2 separate regions of the Homo sapiens genome follow, and region 1 is linked to region 2. The links come from fine-mapping of genetic effects on gene expression. Tissue or cell type: blood mononuclear cells. Region 2 holds a variant in brackets; the other region holds the start of a gene. All regions are shown on one strand. Distances are between the middles of the regions.

Region 1 (6,032 bases), 33 kb before region 2:
TCTGTCCACTTCCGCACTGGCCCTGGGCCCAGTGGTTGCCTTGTGCCTCCCAGGACCTGGTGTGGGATGGGAGAACTCCGCTGAGACCCTGCAGGAACACGAAACAGATGCCAACCGAGAGGGTGAGTGGGGGACTGTGGAAGGAGTAGTATTCTTTGTCCTGCCTGGGGCCCCTGGCAGAACCTCATTCATCCATTCTTTCATTCGACAATGATCCTTTACCAAGTGCCAGGTGACGTGCTGGCAGGGGACACAGCAGGGAACGTTCTGGTGTGAGGAGGCAGATAGTAAACAATTTGCCTAAAAATAATTATTATCTACAACAGCCCTGTCCACTAGAAATATGGTGTGAACCACATGATAATTTTAACTTTTCCAGTAGGCTTACCAGAAAAAGTGAAAAGAGACAGGTACAATGGATTTTAATAACATTTAACTCAATATGCCTACGCTATTACCATTTCAGCATGTAGCCAGTGTAAAAATCATGAATGAGCTATTAGACGTGATGTTTTTTTTTTTTTTTTGAGATGGAATTTCACTCTTTGGCTCACTGCAACCTCCTCCTCCCAGGTTCAAACGATTCTCCTGGCTCAGCCTCCCAAGTAGCTGGGATTACAGGCATGGGCCACCACGCCAGGCTAATTTTGTATAATTATTATTATTTTTTTTAGTAGAGACGGGGTTTCACCATGTTGGTCAGGCTGGTCTCGAACTCCTGACCTCAGGTGATCCGCCCGCTTCAGCCTCCCAAAGTGCTGGGATTATAGGTGTGAGCCACCCAGCCAGACGTGATTTTTTTCATAGTAAGTCTTTGGCAGTTTCGGAGGCCAAGGCAGGCAGATCACTTGAGGCCAGAAGTTAGAGACCAGCCTAGCCAAAATGGTGAAATCCCGTCTCTACTAAAACTACAAAAATTAGCCAGGCATGGTGTCCCATGCCTGTAATCCCACCTACTCAGGGGGCTGAGGCAGGAGAATCGCTTGAACCTGGGAGGCAGAGGGTGCAGTGAGCCAAGATCACGCCATTGCACTCCAGCGTTGGTGACAGAGTGAGACTGTCTCAAAAACAAAAAACAAAAAACAAAAAAACATAGTAGGTCTTTGAAGCACGTCACAGGCCAACCCCATCTCACCTACTTAGCTCCGCCCTGGGCAGCTCAGCCCTAGACCCGGCTGGACCATCAGGAGGCGCTAATGCTCTGGGAAGAAAGGAGAGCAGGGGAGGGGTCAGGAGCTCAGGAGCTCTGGGCAGGCTGGTTGGAGTTTTAGTAACTGGGGTGCTGGGGTGGGCCTCAGAGAGGATGTGAAATTGGAGCAAAGACTTGGAGGGGAGAGTTTGTCGTGTGGACATACCTGAGAACAGCATTCTGGGCAGAGGGAACCGCTGAGGGAACAGCAGGCGTGGTGCAGCTGGAAGCGGGGGGTATTGGCAGGTCGGGGGTGGGCAGAAGGTGCTCGAGCCTGTGGGCCTCCTGGGACTCTGGGAGTCCTCCTGAGGGAAGCAGATCTCAGCTGAGCCTTTCCCTCTAGGCCCTGAGGTACAGGAACCGGAGAAACGTCCCCTCACCCCATCCCTCAGCCAGTGACACCGTGGGAACAGCAGGCTTGGGAGTGCAGCCTTCTCGGCACTGGAGTGTCAGCGGAGGCCCCAGGCAGCCCAAGAGCTCAGGGAGCCAGGGACCCCAAGGGGAGTCCTTGGACAAGGAGGCCTGGGCCCTGAGATCCTCCACGGTCAGCGCCGGGGCCCGGAGATGGAGCTGGGACGAGTGTGTGGACAGGGGGGATGGCTGGCCCCCACGAGCAGCTCCAGGCTGGAGTTCTGGTTCTTCCAGGTGGCTCCCGCTGAGGCAGCGGTCTCTGGGGGATCCCCCAGCTGAAGGAGGCTGGCAGGAGTTGGCAAGAGAACCCCCTGCCCTGTCCAGGTGGGAAGCTGAGTCCCAGTGCTGGGGGACTGTGGCCTGGGCTGATCTTGAGCCTTAACTGGACATGAGGGGCATGAGAATAAAGCTGAACTGCAGCCTCCTGAGTCTTGCTCTGTCTGTTGGCCGCACTGGGTACCTCAGGGCACCAGGACACATGCCGCCCCAGTCCTGCTGGTTGGTGGGGGTCTGTGGGCAGAGGGCCCCTGCCTGGACAGGGCAGCACAGGCCTTTCTCCAGGGTCTTGGCCAGTCCGGCCGGCCAAAGCCCGGATGTCCTGGTGAGGTGGAGAGGGGATGACATCCTGGGTAGCCAGCAGGGATTGGGGTCTAAGATCTGGGCTCAGGGGTGTGGGGCAGTGAAGCCCCTGTTGCCCCGCCCCCACCCTCTCCCAGGGCACTGTCTTCTCTCTGTTCACATCCTCCTCCTACTCATCTCCCCTCCCTCCTTGAGGTTGAGCCCCCTCCCCAGGGAGTTCTCAGCCTGGCGGGGCATCACTTAATGCCAGGGGTTGCCAGGAGAGGTGGGAGGGACGCTGGCTCTCTGACCAGGGCCTCTAGCCTGATGCCTGAGAGGCGGGGCAATTCGGCTGGGGTGCAGGATGTGAGTCAGGGTACCTGGGGCCACCCAGGGGAGGGTGGAGCTGCCCAGGGCTGAGATAAGGCAGCCTGAACTTGGGGGGTGCAGAGCTGGGAGGGACGGTCCGTCCGGCCTCCCAGGTGTGACCTGCAGCAGCTTGAGTTCCTCCTCCTCTCAGCCAGGGCTTCACAGGACAGGGGCGTGGGGTGGACACCCTGGCCTCTCCAGCTGGCAGAGGAGCTGAGAGCCCCTCCCACCGGCCTCAGGGTGTGGGGCCTCATGGCTGTCCCACTCTGCTAGGTGGCCCCATTGGTGGTCAGGAAGGGAAAGGCAGGAAGAAGACGGAGCAGGGGCTCAGGAGGACCAGTCAGCAGGGGCCCTGGGCCTCATGGGGAGAGGGGGCAGCCCCGTGTGGCACTGACATCTCTTCTTGAGGCCTGCTCAGGGCTCTAAGCTGGGTACTGCACCAGGCTAGGAGACAACAGGAGCAGAACACGTGAGGTGCGCATGGCACCTGGTGGGCTCTGCACGGTGACTGGGGGCTGAAGTGCTTCTGCAGGCACCCCCGACAGAAAGCTGGTCAGAAAACTGGCCACTCCTCTCCTTGCCATGGGGTCCCAGGCCGGGCTCCAGCCCCCTCTTGGTGATGAGGCTCCTCCTTGCAAAGGCCAGTCCTCTGGGGAGAGGGGCCCTGCTGGCCACCCCCAGGACGATGGAGTGGGGTGGGCTCCACTGCCTGAGAGTTGGGTGACTTCCAGGATCCAGACCCCCTCTCAGCCTGCCCAGCACCAGGCACCTCGTCCCCCACCTTGGGGCACAGACTCCTAATGTCCTCCAGCCACTGGCTGCAGCCGGCATTCCCGGGCAGATTCCTGGCTTGGGGACTAATGCCCCAGAGGCTCCAGGTTACCCACGGGCTCAGGGATGGCTCCCACGGGGTGTTTCCAGTTCCCGGGAGAGTCGAGTAAGGTCCCGGAGCGCACGGCCCTGAGGCCTGGCCTGGGGGCTCGGGAGACAGGGCGGCCCCAGCCGGCCGCCCACCGGCAGCCCGGCGCTGTCACGTTCCAGCCGCCTGACTCAGGCCGCGCAGGGCGGGGAGCCGGGAGGCGGTGCCGGCGCCCGCCTCGGCCCCGGAGGCGGCACCAGGAAGCGCCCGCCCCGGCCGGAGCCGCCATGTAACCGGCGCCGCCCGGAGCCCGAGCCGCGCGGGCCCCAGCGACCCGCCCGCCATGGGGGACGAGGACGACGATGAGAGCTGCGCCGTGGAGCTGCGGATCACAGAAGGTGGGTGTGGGGCCTGACTGCGGCTGCCCGGGGCAGGCCGGGACGGGTCATGGACCGGCTGGGCTCATTCGCCCCCTGTGCCCACAGCCAACCTGACCGGGCACGAGGAGAAGGTGAGCGTGGAGAACTTCGAGCTGCTCAAGGTGCTGGGCACGGGAGGTGAGGACCCCCATCCACCGGGCAGGCGTCCCAGGCGCGGTGCCCCTGACCTCCTGCCTGCTCACTCTTGGGCCTGGGCCAGGCCACTGAGCAGGCCCCCCACCCTTTCCCGGCACAGCCTGCCTTGCCTGCCCCGCCCTGCCTCGCCAGAGTTTGCATGCCCACTTCCAGGGCACTCCACATTGACATCACTCCTCCCTCCACGGTCCTGTGCGTGCATACCCCCCTGGATTTGCCAACACCCTGGGGAGGGGGACTGGCGCCCCTCTCAAGTGATTTGCATAGCTCCTCCCTTTCTTCCAATATGGGATCCCCCTCCCACATTTTGCAAATGCCCCAGCGCTGGTTTGCGCATCCCTTCCCCAGCCAGGTGCACACCTCTGCCTCCCTTCCTTGCACTGGCATCTTTTCACATCCATCTGATCTCTCGCAGGTTTGCATATGCCCCGCCCCCATGCCTCGCAGCAGGCCCCCTGGAGATGCATGCTCCCCAGCCTGGTTTGCACATCCTTTCCCTGGTTTTGCTGGGCACCCTCCCGGGGTGTGCACACCCTTTCCTTAGAAGGCTCTGCCAGCTTTTTGCACACCTGCCTGTTGCCCCAGCTCCTTCGCCTCATTTGCACACCCTCCTGGGTTGGCATCGCCCCCACCCCCCAAGCCTGCACCAATCTCCCGCTCACAGCCCACCCTCCACCCACTCGCTGCTCCCACAGCCTACGGCAAGGTGTTCCTGGTGCGGAAGGCGGGCGGGCACGACGCGGGGAAGCTGTACGCCATGAAGGTGCTGCGCAAGGCGGCGCTGGTGCAGCGCGCCAAGACGCAAGAGCACACGCGCACCGAGCGCTCGGTGCTGGAGCTGGTGCGCCAGGCGCCCTTCCTGGTCACGCTGCACTACGCTTTCCAGACGGATGCCAAGCTGCACCTCATCCTGGGTGAGCGCACACCACATCCCAACGGGGTTGGGGTGGCTGGGGGCAGGCGAGGCCACCTGACGGGGCTGCTTCCTGACTTCCACTGCACCTCCCAGACTATGTGAGCGGCGGGGAGATGTTCACCCACCTCTACCAGCGCCAGTACTTCAAGGAGGCTGAGGTGCGCGTGTATGGGGGTGAGATCGTGCTGGCCCTGGAACACCTGCACAAGGTGGGTGAAGACCTGGCCGCAGGCTGTTGCTATGGAAACTGGGTCTGTGCCTTGGAAGGAATCTGCACGCAGGGCAGCCTCAGGCTTCCCCCTGGGCTTCCTGGGGGGCCAGTGGTGAGCTGGGTGGGAATTGGAGCTGCTTCCCCTGGACCCCTTGCAGGAAGCCTCAACGTTGCCTGGTGGGGTCCCCTCCCCTGGCACCTCCTCGAAGGGGCTTTCCTCTTTCAGGGAACTCGGGGCTGCGTTCACAGAACTTCCTCAAATGGAAACCTCACGGCCTGGCTCCTAAGGCCTCCTTGAAATGGAGCTCTTCACACAGACTTTCCTCTCTCTGGGACCTTGGGGCCTGATCCACGGGGCCCTCCTTCTTTGTTTTATATCTTAAATGGCCTTTCTTATTCAGTGGCTCTGCCCTGGAGACCCCCTCTACAGGCAGATGACTTTCTCTGGGGGGTCTCCTTATCCTGAGCAGGGCCAGGAGCTGGAGGAGCTGGGGAGGGTTTCGGGGAGGAAGCCTCAGCACCCCTCTTGCTCCTACCAGCTCGGCATCATTTACCGAGACCTGAAACTGGAGAATGTGCTGCTGGACTCCGAGGGCCACATTGTCCTCACGGACTTCGGGCTGAGCAAGGAGTTCCTGACGGAGGAGGTGAGTGGAGGCCACCTCTGCCTGCAGTGCCCCATTCAATCCTTCTCCTTCCTGCCTCTTCCTGCTCTGGGCCTGCATTCTGGGGCTGCAGAAGTGAATAGCTCCAAGAAGTTTCCACAGCTCAGCTCTCCAACCTCACAAGTTGAGCGAGTCTTACTCTGGGCCTTGTGGGGCACTGGGGCACAGGAGAGGTTTCGACATCTAAGCAGGACCTCTTGCCCTCCCAGAAAGAGCGGACCTTCTCCTTCTGTGGCACCATCGAGTACATGGCCCCCGAAATCATCCGTAGCAAGACGG
Region 2 (10,016 bases):
AATGGTATTTGCGTATCTAAATGTATCTAATCATAGAAAAGGTGGCACATTGCACTATGATGATATGATGGCTATGAATGACATCACTAGATGAGAAAAATTTTTCAGCTCCCTTATAATCTTTTATTTTTGTTATTTTTCTTTTCTTTCTTTCTTTCTTTCTTTCCCTCCCTCCCTCCCTCCCTCCCTCCCTCCCTCCCTCCCTCCCTTCCTTCCTTCCTTCCTTCCTTCCTTCCTTTCTTTCAAAAAATAAAAGCATACAGACAACCTCTTGCTATGTTGCCCAGGCTGTAGTCAAACTCCTCGCTTCAAGCAATCCTCCTGCTTTGGCCTCCCAAGTCCCAACCATGTTAGCCAGGCTGGTATCGAACTCCTGGCCTGAAGTGATCTGGCCACCTCAGCTTCCCAAAGTGCCAGGACTATAGGTGTGAGCCACCACACCCAGCCTCCATTATAATCCTATAGGACCACCATGGAATATATGGTCCCACACTGTCCAAAACATCATCATGCAGCCCATGAAATTAAACTGTTTCAAGGAGAAAAGCAAAGAACACAAATGAAAGATGGGTGAGGAGGAATCAATTGTGTGAACACTCAAGAGATGAAGACGCTGAGGTCCCAGTAGACCACCGGCTGTCAGCAGCGGAATATGATAGCAGATTTGTTAAGGTAAGCACCACAAAACAGTGCTGCATCCCAGGTGTAGAATGGGCTGAGAACATCTGACACTTTGCCTCCTCTTTTTTGATGTCATAATCACTGTTGTATTATTCTCCACAAGCATCCAGGAGGGAGATTAGTTTGGGCCCCTATCCTCTTAGTTTTATTAGCTCTGTAGAAAGTATGGCTGGCCAGGTGCAGTGGCTTATGCCTGTAATCCTGGCATTTTGGGAGGCCAAGGTGGGCGGATCGCTTGAGGCCAGGTGTTCCATACCAGCCTGGTTAACATGTGTAATCCTGTCTCTACCAAAAATACAAAAATTAGCCAGGCATAGTGGTGCATGCCTGTAATCCCAGCTACTCTGGAGGCTGAGGCAGGAGAATCACTTGAACTTGGGAGGTGGAGGTTGCAATGAGCCGAGATCGTGCCACTGCACTCCAGCCTGGGCGGAAGAGCGAGACTCTGTCTCAAAAAAAAAAAAAAAAAAAAAAAAAGTATGGCCAAGGCTGGTATTTTCTATACTCCTGTCTTCCTTAGCTTCCTTAGCAACACAAAAGCTATAGTGTTGGGTGTCAATGGGCTTTTTATAATATCACATTTCCTAGCCTTTCAGAAATAGGCCTATAAGATGTAAGCAAAGGTTATTGAGTATGGTTTCTGGGAAAGCTCTCCAAAGGAGGCTAAGCTGAGAGGCATGTCCTTTTGCCTTGCCCCTTCCTACTCTCTGCTGCCTGAAATGTGGATGTGATGTCTGGAGCTGCAGTAGCCATTTTGGGATCATGAGGTAGCCCCAAGGATGGGAGCCTCATGTTAATGATGGCAGAGAGCAAGATAGAATGAGCCTGGGTCACTGATGGCTGTGGACCTGCTGTATCAACCCTGGGCTGGCTAACTCTAGACTTCTTTTCACATGAGAGCAAAATTTAACCTCTCCCTTATTATAGCCACTGTTATTTTGATTCTCTGTAGCTTGTAGCCAGGTGCAATTCTTAACCGATAGCAAAGCTTTTGAGCACACCTGATGCCTCACTTCCCATCTCTATTCATGAATAAAGGGAAGTTTGACATGGATATAGCAGGGTGTCCCTGAGGCATCTGTACTGGGAACAGAGCCTGCTTTTTGTGGGCCTGGGGGCCTTGTGTTGGCTTGGTCCTGTTTGCAGGAACGGGCATGCCCGCTGGTTTTATCTCTCAGAACTGGAGGAGGAGAATGAAGTCGTTTGGTGCAGAGGTGCCCTGGGAGGGGAAGGGGCAGCAAGAATGGTGGAGGTGGATGCTGCGAAGTGACGGCTGGGCTGGGGCCTGGGGATCTGTTTCTGGGAGTGGTAGCAAACTTCTGGGCTCAGGCAGTGTCCCTTCTGGCCTGGGTGACAAAGAACAGTGCAGCTATGGGACAGCACAAAGTCGTGTGTTTCTGCCCCAACCCTAGCCTAACCTTGACTCTCTAGGACTGGCAGCCTGGGAACACTGGAGGCCAGCAGAAGCAGGGGATGCAGAGAGGATGGGGCCAGGTGGAAGCCAGGTGTGGGCTTGGACCTGAGCATGTGGGAGACACTCAACATGCCCTGGAATCCCCAGGGGTGGCAGGTGCTGAGGTGGGCTGTGCTCTGTGGGTGTGCAGCCGGGCACTAAGAATCTTGGTAATTTAGCTGGAGAGCTTGTTTGTGCCCCGGGTAGCCGAGCTGGACATGCAGGTTGCAGAGGGAGTTGGAAGCTGATGGACTTAATGAACATCGTAAATCCCACGGCACTCCCGCATCGTGCCTCCCTGTTGCCTGGTGGAGACTTACCTCTTCAGAAAGCTGGTTTCAGCAATCGCTCCATAAACATCCTTGAAGTTCATGGCCCTCTTTGCTGTCTCGGAGCTCACGCTGCACTTTCTCAGTCTGTTCCATGTTTGCTGATTGAATCAGCAATTCAGCCATTTGGATTAAAAGGCATACACAATTTTTTTTTTTTGAAAGCAAAAACATCTTCTGTTGAAGCAGCTCTGCCTGACCTACCATTTGCCAAAGGAGATGTTCTCAGAAACGTGTTGTTGCCAATGCTCAGAATAAAGATCTGAAAGCCTGTAGCAAGGATCAGAAGCCTCATGGCCAACATCTCTGCATTTATAAAGCATGATTTCTCCTGTGAGTTTGGTGAGGAGATATTTTAACCCTCATTTTGCAGATGGAGAAGGTACGGGGAGGTCTTGCATGTGATGATGAGGCCAGTCATTGGTGGAGACTCCAGGTGTCTTTTTATGTCATCTCACCATCCCTTAGACTGTTAGCTTCAAGGGAAGATGGGCTCATTATTAGCCCAAATATTGACTTACATAGAATAAAAGTGGTAGCTGATATTTGAGCATGGACTCTGAGCCTGGCCCAGGACCAAGTGGCTTTGATCTGTGATTTTGTGTAGTGTGTGTAGCTTACCCAGCTCCTGTTCCTCCCACTTGTGCTTTCTGGTCCCTCCAAGCTTGCTCTAGGTCAGTTGCTGGAATGCACGGGATGCTGGGATAGATGCTCACCCATTTCTGCTGGTCACAGATGAGGAAGCACCTAGCCCTAATGGCAGCTGGCAGCCAGCCTGTCACCCCAAGGACACCATACCTCAGGGTCCAGCTGAGGCTATGGATGACAGAGGAGAGAGGGAAGAGGTCAAGTCCTGAGGACACAGCTGAGCTGCTGGATCGAACCAACCCTGAAGTCCACCCTACTGCTGAACTGTCCTTTAGCCAGGCTGCATCTCCATTTATCATTTTATTTCTTGGCACCTTCCAGAGCCAAGAGAGAGAATCTTCATGTCCAAGGGTCAGCATGCAGCTCATAGAGGGGCCGGAAATCACAGCTGTGTCTGTGCTACTTCTTCCCATCTTCAGGTGCCATGAGTGAATCAGGAAAAGATATTGGTACTGTATTAGTCTGTTCTCATACTGTTAATAAAGACATACCTGAGACTCTGTAATTTACAAAGGAAAAAGGTTTAATTGACTCACAGTTCCCAGAGCTGGGGAGGCCTCAGGAAACTTACAATAATGAGAGAAGGGAAAGCAAACACGTCCTTCTTCACAGGGCAGCAGGAGAGAGAAGAATGAGCAAAGATGGAAAGCCCCTTATAGAACCATCAAATCTCATGAGAACTCACTCACTATTATGAGAATAGCATGGGGGTAACCACCACCATGATTCAATTACCTCCCACCAGGTCCCTCCCACTACATGTGGGGATTATGGAAACTACAATTCAAGATGAGATTTGGGTGGGGACACAGCCAAAACATATCAGGGACTAAGGATACCAAGTCACGGGAGTCATCAGCTCAGTTCAATGGTGTGTCAATTAACAAAGTGTTCTGCAGTAAGAAATCACCCCATCTGGGTGATATGTGTAACTGGCAGAGGAAGTTGGCTCAGTGATGGGGAGCTTCTAAAGAAGCCTGGCCTGGCTGTGGTGTGGGATGTGGACACTGGCCCAACAGAGGGGCCTGTGGCTCCAGCAGAGGGGACATGCAGGTAGCCGATGGCCCAGAGCAGGGCTGTACTCCTTCCACCACACACCACCATTCTTCAGGTGCGGTGACAAGGCAGGGGAAGCTGCTGGGATCTCTTGGGACTTCCAAGGGGCTGAGGTTGTTCATTTACCAGACTTCAGTGGTTACTACAGAGGGCTGTCCTGTGGCCCACAGGGGGCAGGGCAAGAATGAGAGTGGACTTGGGGCCGGGTGTGGTGGCTCACACCTGTAATCCCAACATTTAGGGAGGCCGAGGCAGGTGGATGAATTGAGGTCAGGAGTTCGAGAGCAGCCTGGCCAACATGGTGAAACCCCATCTCTACTAAAAAAATACAAAGATTTAGTGGTGGCCCG[C/T]GCCTGTAGTCCCAGCTACTTGGGAGGCTGAGGCAGGAAAACCACATGAGCCCAGTGGGTGGAGGTTGCGGTGAGCTGCGATTGCACCACTGCACTCCAGCCTGGGGGGCAGAGCAAGACTCTGTCTCAAAAAAAAAAAAAAAAAAAAAAAAAAAGAAAAGAAAAGAAAACAAAAAGAGAGTGGACTTGGCCCAGAGGTGGGTGACGGTCAGTAGCCACCTGTGGAGCCTGGGGCTCTGTGCCACGGTGGCCTCTCTGGAGATAAGGTGGCGGGTGCCAAAGGGAGGGACCCTCAGGGAGGAGGCAGTGACTTGGCCAGTTCACACTCCAAGTCTGTATTTTGGCTCAGCTGGCCCAGAAGTTCCTTGGCACCCCTTTCCCCAGAGGGAGACGTGTGCAATGTGTGCAGAGCCCCGCAAGGGGAGGACAGGTTGGCTCCCCACTGCCCCCAGCAGAGGGTGGGAGTGAGACTTAAGAGATGGGACCTCAGTTTCTCAGTGGCAGGTAGTGGGGTGCTGCCCACAGCAGCATTTGCAAGCTATGTTCCTTGGAGCTCAAGGAGGTTGGAAGTTTATGATAGATGCTCAGCAAAAATGTTGTCATCAGCCGTGTACTGTGCTGCCTCTTGGAAAGTCATCAAGGGCCTCAGCGCATTAAATGCTCTGAGGAGTCCTGCATTGTTATATGTGTTTAATTCAAGGCTCCCCATGGCACACCCAGCAATGCCTGTGGAGCACTGGGGTTCCCTGGAATGTAGTTTGGAAACTGTTCTGGATCTGGCTTGCTCTGAGCCTGGACATTGTCTTGGGAACAGGCCAGGCTTGTCATGGCAGGTGGTTTATGAACAGAAAGCTGCCTCATTAATTTGCAGGGAGGTCATCTTCCCTTGCACCCATCATCCCAGATCACTCAGCTCTGGGCAGGCCCCTTGCTCTCTCCCCACAAGCCAGGGAGCTCAGCCTGTTTTTTTTTTTTTTTTCCTTGAGACGGAGTCTCGTTCTATTGCCCAGGCTCTGGAGAGTGCAGTGCTGTGATCTCCCCTCACTGCAACCTCCGCCTCCCAGGTTCAAGCGATTCTCCTGCCTCAGCCTCCCAAATAGCTGGGATTACAGGCACCTGCTACCACGCCCAGCTAATTTTTGTATTTTTAGTAGAGACGGGGTTTCTCCATGTTGGTCAGGCTGGTCTTGAACTCCCGACCTCAGGTGATCTGCCTGCCTCGGCCTCCCAAAGTGCTGGGATTACAGGCATGAGCCACCGCGCCCGGCCACTCAGCCTGTCCTTCTAAGGCAGTTGCTACAGCTTTGTCTTTTAGGGTTTTTTTCTAGGAGGGAGAATGGTCCCAGGACTCCCTCCTGTGTGACTCTTGCAGGTCACTGCATGCTGGGAAGGGGAGGAGGGTCCTGATCTCAGGTAGATCTAGGACATTCCATTCCCGGGCTGGTTCCTGATTTCCCTTCTGGGGTTGTTCCCCAGGCCTCTGTAGCGGGGGGCCCTGTTGGGGCTGGGGGAGCTCAATCTCTGCAGCGGACTTTGGGTCAATCCTTTCCTGGTTCTGTTTCTGTTTCCAAAGAGCCATGCATTCACTCACAACGAGAACTTTCTCTACATGTAAGGCTGGAGCTGGGCCCAGGGATAGAGAAGTGGACAAGATGAAGCTTTGTCCCTGCCCTCAGTGGGTGCTCATGTGGTGTGGGGACAAAGACCTTAGCTGATGAGGCCGCGAGGGAGGTGGTTCCAGGGAGCACATGAGAGGGAGGCACTTAACTTTATCCATGGGGGCTGGAAGGGATTCAGGAGGTACCAGGAAGGCTGGAGAACCACAGAAACAGGGTGCAGCTCCCAGAACCCGAGGCAAAGTCAGGCCACGGGAGCGATCGGCCGCTGCCACCATTGAACACTGGGTGCCACGCCTGGCCCCACTGCAGCCTCTGGCTCTGTGCCCCAAAAGCCACCTACTGTCCCTGAAGTTGGACACTGTGGCCAGAATGGACGGACTTGACACTGTCCCTAATTCTTTTTTTTTTTTTTTTTTTTGAGACAGAGTCTCTCTCTGCCGCCCAGGCTGGAGCGCAGTGGCCTGATCTCGGCTCACTGCAACCTCCACCTCCTGGGTTCAAGTCATTCTCCTGCCTCAGCCTCCCCAGTAGTTGGGATTACAGGCATGCGCCATCACGCCTGGCTAATTTTTATATTTTTAGTAGAGATGGGGTTTCACCGTGTTGGTCAGGCTGTTCTCGAACTCCTGACCTCAGGTGATCCACCTGCCTTGGCCTCCCAAAGTGCTGGGATTACAGGCATGAGCCACCGCGTCTGGCCTCTCTCTTTTTTTTAGAGACAGGGTCTTGCTCTGTTGCCCAGGCTGGAGTGCAGTGACACAGTCTTGGCTCACTGCAACCTCTGCCTCCAGGGTTCAAGTGATTCTTTTGCTTCGGCCTTCTGAGTAGTTGTGCCTGGCTGTGCCCAGCCAGGATAAATTTTTATTTAAGTCCTTTGCACACTTTCTTTCTTTTTTTTTTTTTTTTTATGGAGCTTCGCTCTTTAGCCCAGGCTGGAGTGAAGTGGCATGATCTCGGCTCATGGCAACCTCCCCCCACTGGGTTCAGGAGATTCTCCTGCCTCAGCCTCCCAAGTAATTGGGATTACAGGCGCCTGCCACCACACACAGCTAATTTTTTTGTATTTTTAGTAGAGACAGGGTTTTGTCATGTTGGCCAGGCTTGTCTCAAACTGCTGACCTCAGGTGATCCTCTCGCTTCAGCCTCCCAAAGTGCTAGGATTACAGGTGTGAGCTACCACGCCTAGCTCCCTTTGCACACTTTCTAACTGGATTTTTGTGTTGTCGTTGAGTTGCAGGAGTTATTTCTATATTCTGGATATTAATCTCTTATAAGATACATGATTTGCAAATATTTCTTCCAATTCTGTAGGTTGCCTTGGGCTGTACTTTTAAATTGTTGAATTCTTTGTAATTTTTTGTTGTTGTTTTTTAAAGAGACTAGGTCTCGCTGTGTCACCTAGGAGGGAGTGCTGTGAAGCAATCAGCTCACTGCAGCCTTGAACTCCAGGCTCAGGAGTTCCTCAGCCTCAGCCGCCTAAGTAGCTAGGACTACAGGTGCATGACACTATGCTCGGCTATTTTTTTTATTAAAATTTTTATTTTTATTTTTTGTAGAGATGGGGGTCTCGCTATGTTGCCCAAGCTAGTCTCAAAGTCCTGGCCTCAAGTGATCCTCTTGCCTCAGCCTCCAGGATGTTGGGATTACAGGTGTGTGCCACCGCACCTGGCCCTCGTCAGTTTTTGGAAGATGACAGCACAACATGTCAATAACCATAGTGGCCGGCGATCTTGTATCTTTCTTGCTAACAGAAGTCTGGTTTCGTGTGGGGAGGCAGCATGCTCAGCCTGGGTCCTGACAATAGGATTTCCATCTGATACTCCACCTTCCCAGTCTCTGTTGCAACTGGGGGTGGCCGTGTGATGCGGTTCTAGCCAAAGAGATGTGAAGAAATGTGAGGAGGAGGGGGTGCTTCTGGGAAACACTTTACTTCTTGATGAGAGGAACACTCCTTTCTTCCCAATAAAAGGCCAATAAAAGTGGACTTGGCTCCCGGATAACATCTCTGAACTATTTCCCCAAACCCAGAATAGCCCATACCCACGCTGCTGCCTCTTATTGCTTCAGCCTCTGATATGTAGATTTTCTATTCATTGCATCCAGAGACATTCCTAACGGCTACAGCTGTGTGACACCTAGGAAGAAAATTCATTTCTTATTCCATTTCCTATCTTAAATTAGGTCAAACGACACTGTGTAATATAACTCCCAGTGGGGTTTGAACATTGAGAACCACATCAAAACCTGCAACATAAGACAGCTGCAAGGTAAACAGGAGCCCCCATGATTGAAGTCCAAAAATGCAATACCTTTCTCCCTCTAAGGCAAAGCCCAGATGAATTCAAGTCAAGACCCCTTCCTCTGCAGTGTCTTACCATGCTCGGCCTTAGGTGGAGGGCCCCACTTGGCTGAAGTGTGGCTTCCCTTGGTGGCAGTTGCAGTCCAGATGGCTCTTCTCCACTTTTGGAGTGAACTTGATACAGTCCTGGAGTGCAGTGGCGTGATCTTGGCTCACTGCAACCTCTGTCTCCAGGGTTCAAGCAATTCCCGTGCCTCAGCCTCCCGGATAGCTGGAACTACAGGCATGCACCACCATGCCTGGCTAATTTTTGTATTTTTAGTAGAGATGGGGTTTCACAATGTTGGCCAGGCCGGTCTCGAACTCCTGACCTCAAGTCAAGAGATCTGCCCACCTTGGCTTCCCAAAGTGCTGGGATTATAGGCGTGAGCCACTATGCCCGGCCACAGTCTATGTTTCTAACCTGGACTGACTTTTCCAAAGAGCCAGTTCCTGGCACATATGAGATGTTCCTAGCACACTCCACACCCACAAAGTATAAACATCAGACAGACAAAAGCAGCACCTCCATCATCACAGCAGCAAACCCAGCAACGCATGGTCCAGAGTCCAGTCCAGAGCCCACTGCGGTGGGCAGCCAGAGGCCTAGAGGAGCTGGCTTAGCTGGAGCAAAGATGCAGGCACAACGCACCGGCGACAAGAGGAATGATGTTGCACTTCACCAGGAGACGAGAGTCCACGACCCAGGAATTGAAACTCCACTGGTGGAAATTGCCCAATGAGAGGCAAACTGTGTCCCCTGCCGTCCGTATCCACCCAGGCTCACAGCTTCCTCTGAGAGCAGCGGGGGGACAGTTGTCTTCTTGGGTCACTTAACATTTGCAGTGAAGTCATTCCTGGAGCCCTTACCTAGGGCTCCCCGCCCCTCCCCCACCTTGTGCTCATCCTGCTTATTCAAAGGCTCTTAATTTTGATGAGTTTCCCACTCCTCCGGCAGGCCCTTCTCAGAGCTGCATGCTTGATTCTCTGCAGTTCCGGTGGTGTCCTGCTTTGCCCTCTAAGCTTCTCCTTCCTCAGCGAGATCTGCAGGAGGCTTACAGCTCTGGGCCGTGAAGTCTCAGCAGCTGCTCAGGAATTCCCGGGGCCCTCCAAGGGGCCTCAGACCCGAGGTGTCTCCGCTGCAGAGTCACCGTGGAATATTCCTGATCCAAAGCAGCTGCCAATGCCTCAGACGCCTGTGCCCCCAGAGGGCCAGGGGCAGCTGTGTGTCTTTTCCCAGGGGCTTTTGAATTTCCTAGGACTTATTTTTAGAGCTGCAACAGAAGCCCTCCTTTCTGCCACTCCGTCTCTGCAGCAGTGGGTCAGGCTTCCGGTGTTTATTTCCATCCATGATTCCTCCCCAACTGAGGTTCCCAACCGCAGCAGCTCATTGGAATCGCGAGTCTACCGATGCTCAGACCCCACTCCAGGGATCCTGATGAATTGATCTGGGGTGAGAGCAGGGGAGGGGCCTGCATCAGCATCTTAAAATTCCTCAGTGGTTGTAGCAGCCAGATGGAAAACCGAGGCTTTTCCAGGGGT

Evidence for each region. PIP is the estimated chance that this variant, and not a neighbour inherited with it, causes the effect.
Region 1: it holds the start of RPS6KA4, and the variant in region 2 is fine-mapped to the expression of RPS6KA4 in blood mononuclear cells (TOPMed, PIP 0.92).

The regions. Positions count from the first base shown.
Region 1 is chr11:64,355,507-64,361,538 of GRCh38, forward strand. RPS6KA4 (ribosomal protein S6 kinase A4) reads left to right here and starts at 3,656. Exons shown (of 17, transcript NM_003942.3): 1 at 3,656-3,784; 2 at 3,872-3,943; 3 at 4,657-4,875; 4 at 4,971-5,086; 5 at 5,628-5,735; 6 at 5,963-6,032. The coding sequence starts at 3,730. CCDC88B (coiled-coil domain containing 88B) reads left to right here. Exons shown (of 27, transcript NM_032251.6): 26 at 54-122; 27 at 1,533-2,028. The coding sequence ends at 1,588. RefSeq lists a silencer at 3,442-3,931 and enhancers at 3,681-4,208, 4,942-5,051.
Region 2 is chr11:64,386,694-64,396,709 of GRCh38, forward strand. LOC124902688 (a long non-coding RNA gene) reads left to right here and starts at 414. Exons shown (of 2, transcript XR_007062718.1): 1 at 414-672; 2 at 3,433-3,620. LINC02723 (long intergenic non-protein coding RNA 2723) reads right to left here and starts at 9,138. Exons shown (of 2, transcript XR_007062719.1): 1 at 8,512-9,138; 2 at 7,649-8,271. The variant C/T (reference allele first, on the strand shown) is at 4,518.